2 separate regions of the Homo sapiens genome follow, and region 1 is linked to region 2. A link means that fine-mapping ties the variant in region 2 to the expression of a gene that starts in the linked region. Tissue or cell type: monocytes after LPS. Region 2 holds a variant in brackets; the other region holds the start of a gene. All regions are shown on one strand. Distances are between the middles of the regions.

Region 1 (8,087 bases), 24 kb before region 2:
TCACGGAGTGTCTAAGAGGAAGCTGGAGTCAGGCAGTGGGAATAAAAAGAATCCCTTGACTCCTCAGAAGCTTTCCTAGGCCAGGCACGGTGGCTCCTGCCTGTAATCCCAGCACTTTGGGAGGCCAAGGCTGAGGGATTGCCTGAGTTCAAGAGTTTGAGACCAGCCTGGGCAACATGGCGAAACCCCAGAAAATTAGCCAGGCATGGTAGTATGCGCCTGTAGTCCCAGCTGGTCGGGAGGCTGAGGTGGGAGGATCGCTTGAGCCTGGGAGGTGGAAGTTGCAGTGAGCCGAGATGTCACCACTGCACCACTGGGTGACAGAGCAAGACCCTGTATAAAAAAATTAATTAATTTTAAAAAAAAGTTTTTCCGGAAGTTTAGTATTATTTTTTCCCTTTCCATGGAAGATTTTAAAACATATTTCTTTCTTTTCTTTTCTTTTGTCTTGCTCTGTTGCTCAGGCTAGTGTCTAGTGGCACAATCATAGCTCACTGCAGCCTTGAACACCTCAGCCTCTGGAGTAGCTGGGACTACAGGCATGTGCCGCCATGCCCAGCTGATGTTTATTTTTTGTAGAGATGGGGTCTTGCTATGTTGTCCAGGCTGGTCTCCAACTCCTGGCTCAAGCTCCTTCACCTCAACCTCTCAAAGTGCTGAGGTGTGAGCTACCACACCCATCCTAGAAACATATTTCTACCTCATATTTATCAAGTAGCTTTGAATATATGGCCCATCATCTTCTTTACTGTTTCAGTTTCTTCCTCAATAAACCAAACTAGTCTTCCTGACTCATGTGGAGCTGAGTCACCTGGTGGTGAGGGTGGAGGAGTGAGAGATCTAAATTTGGTTGACATGGTGTGAGAAATCAGCTTATCTTTCATAGAACCCTTCAGTCCAGGAAAATGCTGGGACTGAACCAATCATTTCAAAGATGCCCAGAACCAAAGCCCTTCTACCAACATATAACTCCCAATGTCAGCCATCAGTTGAGGTCCTGTGGCCACACTGGCCAGGAGGGACGAAGGGAGGAGAGTGTGAAGGGATACAGCAGTTTTTCGAAATTGGAGTCCTTAAGTGCCTCTGGAGATCTTATTGAATGCTTAAAATATCAGGCTTAAAATATAAATTGTTGCACCTGTAATCCTAGCTGCTCAGGAGGCTGAGGCAGGAGAATCACTTGAACCTGGGAGGCGAAGGCTGCAGTGAGCTGAGATCAAGCCACTGCACTCCAGCCTGGGCGACACAGAGCAAGACTCCGTTTCAAAAAAAGAAGAATTTCCATCATTCCTACCTTTAAGGGTGTTTTCCTTCCAAGAACCTCTAGTCCAAAGGCGAGTGGGACGGGAGGTGTTCCTCACTTCCCATCAATTTTCCCTTCAAAGGCTCTCCTTCTTTCACAGTCTGGCGCTGGAGGCAGTTAGCAGGAGAGCCTTAATAAAATTAGGATTACCCATCACATCTCTCCCCCGAGCCAATGAATAGAAAGAACAATAGTTACCATTATGCACACTTTTTTTTTTAAAGACTTTATTTTTCAGCGTAGTTTTAGGTTCACAGCAAAATTGAGAAGAAGGTACAGAGTTCTGATACACCCCCAGCCCCACACATGTATAGCCTCCCCCATTAATCCTAGCACTTGGGAGGCTGAAGCAGGCAGATAGCCTGAGCTCATGAGTTTGTGACCAGCCTGGGCAACGTGGCTAAACCCAGTCTCTACAAAAAAAAAAAAAAAAAAAAAATTAGCCGGGCATAGTGGTGAGTGCCTGTAGTGCCAGCTACTCAGGAGGCTGAGGTGGGAGGATGGCTTGAACCCAGGAGGTGGAGGTTGTAGTGAGCCAAGATCATGCAACTGCATTCAAACCTGGGCAACAGAACCAGACCTTGTCTCTAAATAAATAAAAACAACAACAAAAAAGAATATACACAGCCTATGTTCAAGGAAGAGTAACAACAAAAAGCTTCATGGCTGATGAATAGTGTGTGGTGAAGGGGAGTATTTGAGTATGAGGAAGACTGAAACAAATAAGGCTAGACTGAAACACTTTATTTTAATAGTTTTTTCTTTTTTCTTTTTGAAACAGAGTAGTCTCATTCTGTCGCCCAGGCTGGAGTGCAGTGGCACAATCACAGCTCACTGCAGCTGCATCCTCGACTTCTCGAACTCCAGTGATTCTCCCACCTCAGCCACCAGAGTAGCTGGGACCGCAGGTGCGCACCACCAGGCCCAGCTAATTTTTGTATTTTTTTTACAGGTGGCTTCACCATGTTGCCCAGGATGGTCTCAAACTCTTGAGCTCAAGCAATCTGCCCGCCTCAGCCTCCCGAAGTTTTGAGATTATAGGAGTGAGTCTAGACTGAAACATTTTGAATGCCACACTCTAGTTTACAGAACTTTATTCAGTAAACACTGGAGACCAACAAACGTTATCAAGCAAAGAAATGTTCAGATTTACATTTTACAGAGATAATTGTGACCAGAAGGGATGGACTTGAGAGTGAAATCAGAGCACTGTTTCTTTCAATAGCCGCATGAGAATTTGAGGGGTGGGGAAGACAAGGCACATTAAAATGAAAATTTCTGGGTCCACCCTTTATTGAATCAGAATCTCTGGGTTCAAGGCCTGGGAATCTGCATGTTACATCTCAAACATAGGAGTGATTCTTGTAGGCTCTGAAGTCTGAGCTATAGACTAGAATCAGAATGGCCAGTTAGGAAGCTTTTGCAATTATCCAATTAAGAAATGAAATGTCCTGGGTGCCATGGCTCATGCCTGTAATCCCAGCAATCTGGGAGGCTCAGGCGGGAGGATCACTTGAGTCCAGGAGTTCGAGACCAGCCTGAGCAACATAGTGAGGCCACTCATCTATACAAAACAATTAAAAAGTAGCTGGGCTTGGTGGCAGGCACCTGTGGTCCCAGTTTCTTGGGAGGCTAAGGTGGCAGGACTGCTTGGGCCCAGAAGTTGGAGGCTGCAGTAAGCTATTATTGCACCGCTGCACTCCAGCTGAGTGACAGAGCAAGACTCTAACTCAAAAAAGAAAAAGAGGGCCGGGAGCGGTGGCTCACGCCTATAATCCCAGCACTTTGGAAGGCTGAAGCAGGAGGATCACTTGAGGCCAGGAGTTCGAGAACAGCCTGTCCAACATGGCGAAACCCCGTCGCTATTAAAAATACAAAAATTATCTGGGCATGGTGGTAAGCGCCTGTAATCCCAGCTACTCAGGAGGCTGAGGCAGGAGAATCACCTGAACCCGAGAGGCAGAGGTTGCAGTGAGCTGAGATCGCGCCGCTGCACTCCAGCCTTGGCGATAGAGGCAGACTCTGCCTCCAAATACATAAGTAAATAAATAACAGATCTGTAGGCGGAAAACAATGTGGCAGTAATTGTTCCTTTGCCTTGGTGTCCCTGGGCAAAAGGCAGGCCCCCACTCCGGGGCATCGCTCGTCGCCGCTCCATTCTCTGCAGACCGAAGTTTCCCCAGGCCTGGGAAGACTAAGTGGGAGGCGCCCACCGTGCGAAGATCCTCCCGGCTTCCAGGGAAGGGAGGCTGGGCCTGCAAATAATAGCCGGGGGCAGGAGAAAGGCTCCGATTGGTCGGAGGGAGGGTGACGAACAAGGGGCGGAGTTTTCCTGGGGACTGGTGGGGGAAGTAAAAGGGAGGGGGTGTGCACCGCCGGGTGTCAGTTTCGGAACCCCAGCCAGCTCACCTCTGCGCCGCTGAACCCGATCCGAGCCTCCGGCAAAGGTTTTTCCCTCCTCCCCCGGCCGAGGGCTTCTGCAGCCCGGGCACCCCCGCCCCGCGGCGCCCCACATTCCCCCAGCCCGGGGCCCTTGGCGCGTGCGCTCCGTGCGGCTGTGCTCCGCGGGACTTTGTTTGTTTCCTCCTCGTCCCTCTTTGTTGGGCTGAACACCAGCCTCGTCAAAGCCCCCCACTCCGGAGGGAGTTCGGCTTCTCCAGCAGGGCGGCTGCAGCGCGCTGCCCCGACCCCGCCTGCGGCCCCTCACGCCGCTAGTGCTCCCACCCCGCCCTCCTGGCACCCCGCCTGCGTCCGTTCGCCCGAGGAAGCCAACCGCGACTTCATTGATGCACCCATTCCAGTGGTGTAACGGTGAGTCCCCGGGGCGAGGGCCGAGCCTACGTGGGGCTGGTGGGAGCCGCGGCGCGGGGTGCGAGGTCGGACAGCAGCGCGCTGGTCCTCCCTCGGGAACCAAGTTTCTCCTGAAATGGGACAGTCGAGAAGGCGTCTTGGCGCCCCACTCTGCTCTGCACAGCGCGGAATTTGAAACTATCCAGGTTTCACTCCAGAGCCTGGAAGGGGCCTCCGGACTGGCGGCGGGCCGGGGGCGTGGGAGCCGAGGGGTTCCCGGCCTTTGTGTGGCGGCCCGGCTCTTCTACCCCCTTCCCCTGCCTTTGTGCGCTCAAACTCTGTTCTTTGTTGTGGTTGTTGGAGGAGAATTAAATCCGCACTCGGGCTGGGATCTCCTAGAGGGAGCTCAAGTTCCCGGCCTGAAACTTTGCAGGCTATTGTAAATATGTATACCGTGCAGCGTGCGGGACTGGGCGCGGGGGTAGCTTCCTCTGGCTTTGTTGGTTTCCCACGGGCTGCTGGCGTGGCTTGGGTGCTTGCGGAAGACTGGATTAAAGAGTCGCTTTCGGCCAGGCGCGGTGGCTCACGCCTGTAATCCCAGCACTTTGGGAGGCCGAGGCGGGCGGATCACCTGAAGTCGGGAGTTCGAGACCAGCCTAACCAACATGGAGAAACTCCGTCTCTACTAAAAATACAAAATTAGCCGGGAGTGGTGGCGCATGCCTGTAAGCCCAGCTACTTGGGAGGCTGAGGCAGGAGAATCGCTTGAACCCAGGAGGCGGAGATTGCAGTGAGCCTAGATCGTGCCATTACACTCCAGCCTGGGCAACAAGAGCGAAACTCCATCTAAAAAAAAGCCGTTTTCCTGAGTTGATAAACCCTCGCAGAGAGCTCCGCGCCCGGCTGTCCCTGGGGTGCGAGGCTGGCCTGGCGGGAGCCGTGTTTCTGGCCACAAGGCCAGATTAGGGTGTCTGCTCCTGAGCCCAAGTGAAGGCCACACCTCCAGACGCGACAACCCCTCGCCCCATTTCTCCCCAGGCCTGGGTGATGCTTCTAAGTTAGTTCATTTCACCTGAGGCTTTTTGGAGGTTCAGGTGATACTGGGTTAGGCTGGAGTCTGATTCCTCAGCGAGCTACCTGAAAGGTAGGTGTTTCTGAGCGGGACACTTCAAAACCTTGGATACTAATCGCCCCCCACCCCACCCGCTCCAGTCCTCCTGGGGTCCTAGTCTTGACCGCGTTGTTCCGATGCTTGGAGAGTTTCTGGGAGAGAGAGATGGGAAGCAGCTGGCCTTATCTCTCAGTATGGCAAGCGAGCTAGTTACAGGGGGAAAAAAATCATTCTTTAGAGTAGACTCCTGCCAGATCTTGGATTAATTATGTCAAGAGGCTTTGTTTTGAGGCAGGGTTTGGGTAGCATGTATACCCCACATCCCCCCACCCCGCCTTCCTCCTTTTGCTGGTCGGATCTCATTTCCTGAAAATGAACCAAGCCGTGTGTGATAGGCGGTTTTGTGGGAGAGGGGGCAGAGGATGGGGGTTGAGGAAGGCCCTTGCACCCTAGCATCTGGGAAAGATTCCCGTTGGCTGGGAAAGAGAAGCAGTTCCCAGATCCCCTGGTCTTTCTTGGCCAGCCCTTGTCTGACGTCATTCCTGCTCCCAGCCTGCCAGATGAGATGAGACATTCTGATGTCAGTGCTTTCATAGGTTGGCCGAGACAATGGAACAGAGACTTAGGGAGAAATGAGGCAGCTGTCAGTAACACTGCCCTTTCTGGGCAGCGCCCTTTCATATCAGATTTTAGACTTGCTGCTTTATTTTTTTTATTTTTTATTTTTTATTTTTTTGAGACTGAGTTTCGCTCTTGTTGTCCAGGCTGGAGTGCAATGGTGTGATCTCGGCTCACCACAACCTCCGCCTCCCGGGTTCAAGCGGTTCTCCTGCCTCAGCTTCCCGAGTACCTGGGATTACAGGCATGTGCCACCATGGCCGGCTAATTTTGTATTTTTAGTAGAGAGGGGGTTTCTCCATGTTGTTCAGACTGGTCTTGAACTTTTGACCTCAGGTGATCTGCCCACCTCAGCCTCCCAAAGTGCTGGGATTACAGGCGTGAGCCACTGCGCCCAGCCTACTTTAATTTTTTTTTTGAGAGAGGGTCTCACTCCGACAACCATGCTGGAGTGCAGTGGCACGATCAGGGCTCACTGCGGCCTCCAACTCCCAGGCTGAAGGGATCCTCCTGCCTCAGCCTCCCAGCATAGCTGGAACCACAGGTGTGTGCAACCATACCTGGCTACTGGCTAATTTTTAATTAATTAATTAATTAATCTACTTTTTGGGGATAGGGTTTCACTACATTGCCTATGCTGGTCTTGAACTCCTGGGCTCAAGCAGTCCTCCCACCACGGACTCTCAAAATGCTGGAATTACCTGCAGGAGCCACCTTGTCTGGCCCTCTTTGCACTTCTTAGAAAAGTGACTGAGAGATCCTGTCCTTTGACTCCTGTGAAGAAGCAACCCTTCCCTCACCCCTTCAGAAACTACCTGGAGCCCCTCTTTCCTGGGGCTGGTATTCTCTGTCCTTATACAGTTTTAAAGAAAAACTTACTACAGTGTCAGCTTTTGACCAGTAGACTATTTTGCCATTTCTTTAATAGTAACACAAGCAAATGAACCATCTCCTCTTGACTATGCTCTTCCCACCGACCTCTTTATCACGTGAAATACCAAGCTCACTGATTCAATCAGTGGGAGATAAAGGGGAAGCCTTTATCAGGCAGGATAAGTTGGTGGGGATAAACTGATCAGAGGACTTGCGGGGACCATCGTGCTTGTGGAGTGCACAGATATCCTCTGTAATAGCTCTGACCAGGTTCTGCAAGTTCCCAGAACTGGAAACCAAAGGAGGTTTCAGCTCATAAAAGGTGCCTGGAAGAACTAAGGAAACGGGGGGTTAGACCCTCTTGTAACATCAAATAGTGCGGGGGAAGGAGGTGAGAAAACAGCTGGGAGCACCAGGTCTTGTTGGAAGGGAAGTCCTGAGCCCCTTTTCCAGCATAGACTGAAGTTTGTCACTCTAGCCAGTCTGCCATGATGTCCTCATGGAAAATTGTTCTTCTTTGACCCACAGAAAGTAAATATTTGGGTGGGGACTGGTGGTGAAAAGCACTTTCTCTCTAACCCCTACTAGAGCCTAGACACAAGGAACTTCCTGTTGGGCACAGCAAAGTTTAGTAGCTAATTATTTCTTTCATTTCAACTTAATCAAAAAGTCTTTCACAACAAGAACTTCTACTTTCTGTTTTCCCACAATGTGTAGGTCAGTGCATAAAGCAAGCCCTCAATAATACTTGCTGGTTGACTGGTGATCCATTAGCGGAGGGCAGTTTCTGGGCAATTTTCCCAAACATCAGTCCTGCTGCTTTGAAGTGGGAGGTTTTGCCAAGGGGACCAGGTTATTTTAAGAAAATGGGGAATTATTTATCTGTTAACTAGTTATTGAGAACAAGCCAAACTCTAGGCTAGGCCGGACACTGGAGAATATACAAAAGTCCAAGTTGGAGTCAGCAAACCTAGGAGGGTTCAGGCTTTTTTTTTTTTTTCTTTTTTTCTTGAGTCTCACTCTGTCGCCCAGGCTGGGGCACAGTGGCGCCATCTCAGCTCACTGCAGCCTCTGCCTCAGCTCACTGCAGCCTCTGCCTCCCGGGTTCAACCAATTCTCCTGCTCCAGCCTCCCGAGTAACTGGGACTACAGGTGTGCACCACCATGCCCAGGTTTTTTGTTTTGTTTTGTTTAGAGACGGGAGTCTCTCTCTGTTGCCCAGGCTAGAGTGCAGTGGTGTGATCTCCGCTCACTGCAACCTCCGCTTCCCAGGTCGAAGTAATTCTCCTGCCTCAGCCTCCCGAGTAGCTGGGATTACGGGTGCCAGACACCAAACCCAGCTAATTTTTGTATTTTAGTAGAGATGGTGTTTCACCATGTTAGCCAGGTTGG
Region 2 (8,087 bases):
CGTCTGATTTCTAGCATATTTTTAAAGGAAGTTGGTATTTTCAATCACAGCATTCCGTCGACTAAGACTTGAAACTAAGAATTCTACTTGTAATTTAAGCAATTGTCAGTGCCCTTAACACAACTAGTCACAACTAAAAAGGTCTACCTTTTAGTTATACCATAGAGGTTGCTACCATAGAGGCTCTGATCTCTCTTTTTTTGTTTGTTTTGTGGTGACAGAGTCTCTGGAGAGCAGTGGTGCAATTCTGGCTCACTGCAACCTCCACCTCCTGGCTTCAAGTGATTCTCCTGCCTTAGCCTCATGAATAGCTGGGACTACAGGCATGTGATACCACACCCAGCTAATTATTTGTGTATAGTAGAGACAGGGTTTTACCATGTTGGCCAGGCTGGTCTTGAACTTCTGGCATCAAGTGATCCATCTGCCTTGGCCTCCCAAAGTGCTGGGATTACAGGCGTGAGCCACCGTGCCCACCCCCTTTTTTTTTTTTTTTTTTTTTTAATTTTTGAGGCAAGATTTCACTCTGTCACCCAGTGTCACTGGAGTGCAGTGGCACAATCATGGTTCACTGTGGCCTCAAACTCCTGGGCTCAAGCAATCCTCCCACCTCAACCTCCAAGCAGCTAGGACCACAGGCACACACCACCATGCCCAGCTGGGTTTTGTATTTTTTGTAAAGATGGGGTCTCACTATGTTGCCCAGGCTGGCCTCAAATGCCTGGGCTCAAGTGATCTGCCCACCTCAGCCTCCCAAAGTGTTAGGATTACAGGGGTGAGCCACTGAGCCCAGGCCTCTTATTTTTTCTTAGCTAGTAGCTGCAATTGCTGACAATTGCTGCCACCTCTAGCAATGTTGCATGGTGATGCTTTATGGTCCTATGTGCACTCAGACCTTGCATCCATGCCCTCCAGCTTTGTTCTGTCCATGTCCCAAGGAAGCACTGAGTCAGCAGGGGGCATGCAAAGTGCATTAAGAGTGTTGGGAATGGCCTGTAATACCAGCACTTGGGGAGGCCGAGGCAGGCAGATCACTTGAGATCAGGAGTTTGAGACCAGCCTAGCCAACATGGCAAAACCATGTCTCTACTAAAAATAGGAAAATTAGCTGGGCATGGTGGCGCACCCCTGTAACCCCAGCTACTTTGGAGGCTGAGGCACAAGAATCACTTGAACCTGAGAGGCGGAGGTTGCACTGAGCCAAGATTGCACCACTGCACTCCAGCCTCAGCCACAGTGAGACTCTCTCTCAAAAAAAAAGTAAAAATGTTGGGAATGATTTTCGTGACCATAATAAGCATGGAGCAGCTGGGCCTATACTGCCCCTATGTGTTGAACAAGAGCGTTTGCTGAATAAGTATACTGTTCTGGTGTCATAGGTAAGCAGGAGATGCCCATACACCCAGAGGTTCCAGGCCCCACAGGTAGGTGCGATGCCTTCTCACCCCTGTTGTTGCACCATGGAGGCTGTCAGCACAGTGTGTGCTCATGCTGGGCAGTCCCGAGGTGCAGCTGGGGCACCTGGCAGTCCTGGTGCAGTTGTTGATACCTGTCTTGATGGAGTTCTTTGCCCAAGGGTACACCTGTTCTTACCACCTATTTTTCCCTCACTGAGAGGTAACCCCTGCTCTTCCTTGAAGCCACCAGCTCCAGCTTGCTGCTGCCAACCCTATGGAGCCTGATCCTTTCTTTGTTGGGGGTACCGCATCATCTCCCAGCAACCCTCAGCTTGCTTTAATGTGGGAAATAAAATGTGTTTCCTAAGCAAAACACAGAGCCTTCCCTCCAGCTCCTGCTGCAGCCTCATGGTAGATGCATTGCTGGGATCAGATGGGGAAAGTATGATCAGTAGGTTGGCTTCAACTTTCCTGCCTCAACCGTCTCCCCTTCCTCTTAAGGAAAATTTATTGGTGTTGAATTCATCAGATTAGCATAATTCTGATTGAATTTTATTCTTTTTTTTTTGAGACAGTCTTACTATGTCACGCAGGGTGGAGTGTGGTGTTGCGATCTTGGCTCACTGCAACCCCCACCTCCCAGGTTCAAGTGATCCTCCTGCCTCAGCCTCCTGAGTAGCTAGGACTCCATGCCCGGCTAATTTTTGCATTTTTAGTAGACACGGGGTTTCACCATTTTGGCCAGGCAGGTCTCTAACTCCTGAACCTCAGGTGATCTGCCCACCTCAGCCTCCCAAAGTGCTGGGATTACAGTCATAAGCCACCATGCCCAGCCAATTTTGATTAAAATATTAGCACTAAATTGTCTGTGTTCACAAATTTGAAAATCAATGTCCTGAAGTCAAGAGGACAGGGGAAAAACTTCCTTGTATTATTTCTAGTGCTTCCATACAGTTAGGTAGAATGCCATGATGGAGCACCGAGAAGGGAAAACTGGATATTGTTTAGCTGATCAGATATGACTTGGCAGCAGCTGAAAACAAGTTAAATAATCATGAATCAACTTGTAGTCATTAGCGTTGTCTTGTGACTCAGTTCAGTGTTTCTAAAGAACCTACTACCTGGGCCAGGTGCTGAGATAGGATAACTCCTGCCTCATAAAACAGTGTAAGCAGTGTATTTTAGGTGAGCAGGCTGGTATGGCAGAGAGACCCTTAGCACCACTGCTCTGAAAACTGCGAGGGTACCTGCCGGGATATGACATCTGAGTCTCGAGAGCAGTGTGGGCAAACTCACACAGGATAACAGCCTGTTGGGTACCAGAGAATGCAAACTGTAGAGAATAAAGTTGAGGTGGGCGAAGGCTGGAGAAGAGAAGTCTTGGGTGGGGCCAGACACTTGGGACTTGATAGAGTGAGAATTCTGAAGTTTCTTTAGGTTGGGCTTTTTAAAAATTTGGGCACCACTGGGCCAGGAGCAGTGGCTCAGGCCTGTAGTCCCAGCACTTTAGGAGGCCGAGGTGAGAGGATCATGAGGTCAGGGGTTCGAGACCAGCCTAGCCAACACGGCAAAACCCTGTCTCTACTTAAAATACAAAAAATTAGTTAGGCGTGGTGGCGGGTGCCTGTAATCCCAGTTACTCAGGAGGGTGAGGCAGGAGAATCGCTTGAATCTGGGAGGCGGAGGTTGCAGTGATTCAAATTCGCACCACTGCACTCTAGCCTGGGAGACAGAGTGAGGCTCTGTCTCAAAAAGAAAAAAAAATTGGGGCACCATTTGGGAGCTAAGCACATAATTTTCCTCTCTGTTCATGTGATGGCCATGGGCAGCTACAGTGTACTTAGCTCTATTCTCATTACTGAAGGATAATTTGTACCCTGAATGTGTTTCAATGGGTGAAAAACTGGGCCAAGCGCGGTGGCTCACGCCTGTAATTCTAGCACTTTGGGAGGCCGAGGCAGTTAGATCACTTGAGGTCAGAAGTTTGAGACCAGCCTGCCAACATGGTGAAACCCTATCTCTACTAAAAATAAAAAATTAGCCAGACATGGTGGCGGGTGCATGTAATCCCAGCTACTGGGGAGGCTGACGCAGGAGAATCGCTTGAACCCGGGAAGCCGAGGTTCCAGTGAGCCAAGATTGCACCACTGCATGCAGTCTCAAAGTAAATAAATAAATAAATAAAAATAAAAAGGTAAAAACTGAAGAAAGCTGGGTGATAATCATAGGTACCAGAATTCCAACTTCAATGATCTTATCTGTGGCAAACAAACACCAATCAGTCAAAGATAATAAGCATTTACCCACCAAGTTGTTTCACAAAATGCATTTCCTGCTTCCCCCTGCCCCGCCCCCACTGCCATATATATCCCTCTGAGTTTCGGATTAGGAAAGAATGTTGAGAAAAGCAACAGCTTACTTGTGACTACACAGATAATAAGCATCAGAGTCAAGGCACAAACCCAGGTTGTATGGATCTAAGTTTGCTGCCACATGTAGCTTCAGAAGCAGATTGCTCTCTGCAAAGATAAGAAAGCGGCAGGTGCTATTAATGCCTGGACTGATGCAATCCGGGAAGACAAAAACCCCAGAAAATTGTCAAGTGATTTGTGTGCTTGTCATTATCTAGGGCCATGGGGTGTGAGTTTTCTTTTTGTGCTATTTGTAAGTGTTTTGGGGGTACATGTGATATATGTTGCATGTACGGAATGTGTAATGATCAAGCCAGGGTATTTAGGGTATCCATCACCTCGAGTATTTACCACTTCAATGTATGGAAACATTTCAAGTCCTCTCTTCTAGCTGTTTTGAAATATACAATATATTGTTGCTAACTTGAATCATCCTACTCTCCTGTGGAATATTAGGACTTATTCCTTCTAACTACATGTTTCTCTCCATTAATCAACCCCTCTTTACACTCCCCCCACATACCCTTCCCAGCCTCTGGTATCTATCATTCTACTCTCTACTTCCATGAGATTTTTTTTTTTTTGAGATGGTGTCTCACTTCGTCGCCCAGGGTGGAGTGCAGTGGCGCGATCTCGGCTCACTGCAAGCTCCGCTTCCTGGGTTCACGCCATTCTCCTGCCTCAGCCTCCCAAGTAGCTGAGACTATAGTTGCCCGCCACCACGCCCGGCTAGTTTTTTGTATTTTTAGCACAGATAGGGTTTCACCGTGTTAGCCAGGATGGTCTCGATCTCCTGACCTCATGATCCACCCGTCTTGGCCTCCCAAAGTGCTGGGATTACAGGTGTGAGCCACCGCACCCGGCCGTTTGTTGTTTTTTTAACTCCACAGTGGATTACTTCTTTTAAAGAAATCTGTGTTTGTTTGTTTGTTTGTTTGTTT[C/G]TTTATTTTTTTTTTTTTTGAGATGGAGTTTCGTTCTTGTTGCCCAGCTGGAGTGCAATGGCGCCGTCTCCGCTCACTGCATCCCCCGCCTCCTGGGTTCAAGCGATTCTCCTGCCCTAGCCTCCCAAGTAGCTGGGATTACAGGCACCCATAGCCACACTGAGCTAATAAGGAATCTATGTTGAAGAAGCATTTATGAAATGAGTAATTGGAGCGTGGATGAGAATATGAAAACTCCTGACTGATAGACTGAAACAATGGGTCTCTTCAAGGACTGTGCCCTCCCATTCCTCCTTATTCCCTCCCATCAGTTTTTTGTTTTTGTTTTTATTTAAAGACAGGGCCTGGCTGTGTCACCCAGGCTGGAGTGCAGTGGCATGATCTCGGCTCACTGCAACCTCTGCCTCTCAGGTTCAAGCAGTTCTCCTGCCTCAGCCTCCCAAGTAGCTGAAATTACAGGCACTCACTACCATGCCCAGCTAATTTTTGTATTTTCAGTAGAGATGGGGTTTCACCATGTTGGCCAGGCTGGTCTCCACCTCCTGACCTCAAGTGATCCACCTGCTTCGGCCTCCCAAAGTGCTGGGATTACAGGCGTGAGCCACTGTGCCCGGCCCCTCCCATCAGTTCTTACTTCTGCCACCCATCCCTCAACAGGGCTTTTCCCATTCTCACCTGGGGTTCTTATGTTTCCCCAGTTTTGCATATTTTCCCCACTAAGGTAGGACGCAACCTCTGCCTTCCATTCTACCACCCTCTTCTATCTTTGTGGGTGTCAGAGTAATATCCTGCATGCTCTTGACTCACTCAGAGGGAGTCTTCTGTTGAAGCCATATGCACAGGTTCAGAGGGACAGATGTGATCAAATTAGAGACAAGGACAGACTGACCAGTAATGCAGGCATGTGTGGCCAGTGCCATTCACAGAAAAAAAATCAAGCTGTTTACGACACCCCAGTCAGCACTGGATTCCTACCTATCTTATTTTTAAAATCATGCCCATTTAATTCCTTTTCTAATAAACTAGTCAGCCAGGGAAGCAAGGAGGACCTGACCAATGTCACTTTTGTACATGGGCACGACTTCCTATTCTGTTCCCATGTGAAAGTCTCAGTAAGAAACCAGGGCAGGCTGGGCACAGTGGCTCACACCTGTAATCCCAGCACTTTGGGAGGCCGAGGCAGGTGGATCACAAGGTCAGGAGTTCAAGACCAGCCTGGCCAACATGGTGAAACCCCGTCTGTACTAAAAATACAAAAATTAGCTGGGCGTGGTGGTGGGTGTCTGTAATCCCAGCTACTTGGGAGGCTGAGGCAAGAGAATCGTTTGAACCTGGGAGGCAGAGGTTGCAGTGAGCCAAGATCGCGCCACTGCACTCCAGCCTGGGAGACAGGGTGAGACTCCATCTCAAAAGAAAAGAAAGAAAAAGAAAAGAAACCAGGGCATGTGCTCTGTAGAGGAGGGAGAGCGCCAGGAGGACTAGAAGATGTTTTTGATGACTACTGAGCACACTTTCCCATCTTCGGCACCTCTCTGGTGCTAAACATCAGCACTTCTTTCTTTCTTTTTCTTTTTTCTTTTTTTTTTACCTGGACAGGAAGTAGCATTTATTGGTGGGTATTAAGATGGGGCAGAGGCCGGGTGCAGTGGCTCACACCTGTAATCCCAGCACTTTGGGAGGCCGACACGGGCGGATCACGAGGTCAGGAGTTGAAGACCAGCCTGGCCAACATAGTGAAACCCCATCTCTACTAAAAATACAAAAAATTAGCTGGGTGTGGTGGCAGGCGCCTGTAATCCCAGCTGCTTGGGAGGCTGAGGCAGGAGAATTGCTTGAACCCGGGAGGCGGGGGTTGCAGTGAACCGAGACTGCGCCATTGCATTCCAGCCTGGACAACACAGCAAGGCTCTGTCTCAAAAAAAAAAAAAAAAAAAAAGGTAGGGGGTGGGGAGCAGCACAGTGGAAGCCCTCACCAGTGCCGGACCTGCCACTTGTCCAGAGGGCCATGACTGGGGATGTACTTGACCCTGCAGCTATCTGGGATGAGCTGCTTCTCAGCCACTATGTCTTCTCATTCATCCACATTGAACTTGGTAAAGCCCCACTTCTTGGAGATGTGGATCTTCTGGTGGCCAGGGAACTTGAACTTGGCCCTGCATGGCGCCTCAATCACATGCTCCTTGTTCTGCAGCTTGGTGCAGATGGACTTAACTTGGCCAATGTGAACCCTGGCCACAGTGCCCTGGGGCTTTCCAAAGGCACCTTGAATGCCTGTTTCGAGCCTACATCGGGGGTAGTGCAAGGTCAGAGACATGAACGTACATTTGAAAGGCCTGTCTCCAAGGACCCTTAGAGCAACCCATACAAGAAACAGGCCATGTACACCACCAAGAAAGCTGCTGTTTGCAGCCATTGCACACTGGGATCAGAACTTCTTTCTTATCAATCTCGTCTCCTCTCCCATTCATTTTTTCTCCCTCTTCCTTTCTTTCCTCTTTTTTTCACCTTTCATCGCAGTCTAGTCTCTATCATGGCTGAGAATGCCAAGCCATTGCAAAACCCCTCCTGATGGGCTACGATAGTCATGAATAGTTCAAAGGATACACAGATTACTAAGAGTACACCCAAATGGTTTAACCCAAATGTGGGTTTAAGCCCCCACAGCAACCAGCTCTGAGTTTCTGAATGTTTACTTATATATGTCTATTATTTCTCAAGATGATGCTGATATCCTCAAAGACAGGAATAGAATCCATGGCGACTTTGATGCAATGTGAAGGCGGCCATCAAATACCAACCTAAATGAAGAAAAAACTAGATTTTCTTAAGTGTAGGAGAAATTGATTTGAAAGCATAGTGGATGTCAAGTTGGTCATAAGGCAGAAAAAAGTCAAAATGAATCCAAAATGCAATAGCACAATTATAACATGCCGAGAAGTCCTTTCTGCCTTCAATACTGACCAAATTTCTATTGGATTCCTTTACTCTCATTTTACATCTGCAGAAAAATAGGGAGGCTGTAAAAAGTGCCATGAGGGGCCAGGTACAGTGGTTTACACCTACAATCCCAGCACTTTGGGAGGCTGAGACAGGAGGATCGCTTGAGCCCAGGAGTTTGAGACCAGTCTGGGCACTATAGTGAGACCCCAGCATATATATATATATATATATGCTGCCATGAGGAAGAAATTGAAAGAGTATTTTTAAATCTGGAGGGACAAAGACCAAGAGACAAGCAAGTTGGTGGTCATCAGTATTATGTTGTAAGCATGAATCTCCATTGCAAACTCAGATATTCTAGAAATTACAGTTTTCCTCCCATTAAATTGATGCTGAGC

Which allele goes with the higher level. Alleles are on the strand shown, and positions count from the first base shown. SD is a standard deviation of normalised expression in the study named.
For the expression in monocytes after LPS of the gene that starts at base 3,685 in region 1, G is the low allele of the variant in region 2 and C is the other (large effect, 2.0 SD a copy in Quach 2016).

What was found. PIP is the estimated chance that this variant, and not a neighbour inherited with it, causes the effect.
Region 1: RNF122 starts here. The variant in region 2 is fine-mapped to the expression of RNF122 in monocytes after LPS (Quach 2016, PIP 0.95).

Annotation. Positions count from the first base shown.
Region 1 is chr8:33,562,726-33,570,812 of GRCh38, reverse strand. It overlaps RNF122 (ring finger protein 122), which reads left to right and starts at 3,685. Exons shown (of 6, transcript NM_024787.3): 1 at 3,685-4,114. The coding sequence starts at 4,090. RefSeq lists silencers at 3,801-3,920, 3,971-4,040, 4,071-4,120, 4,261-4,310.
Region 2 is chr8:33,539,131-33,547,217 of GRCh38, reverse strand. It overlaps the pseudogene LOC124900261 and the pseudogene RPL10P18. Among named protein-coding and RNA genes, the nearest start is that of RNF122, 24 kb to the left of the region's middle. RefSeq lists a silencer at 1,308-1,377. The variant C/G (reference allele first, on the strand shown) is at 4,750.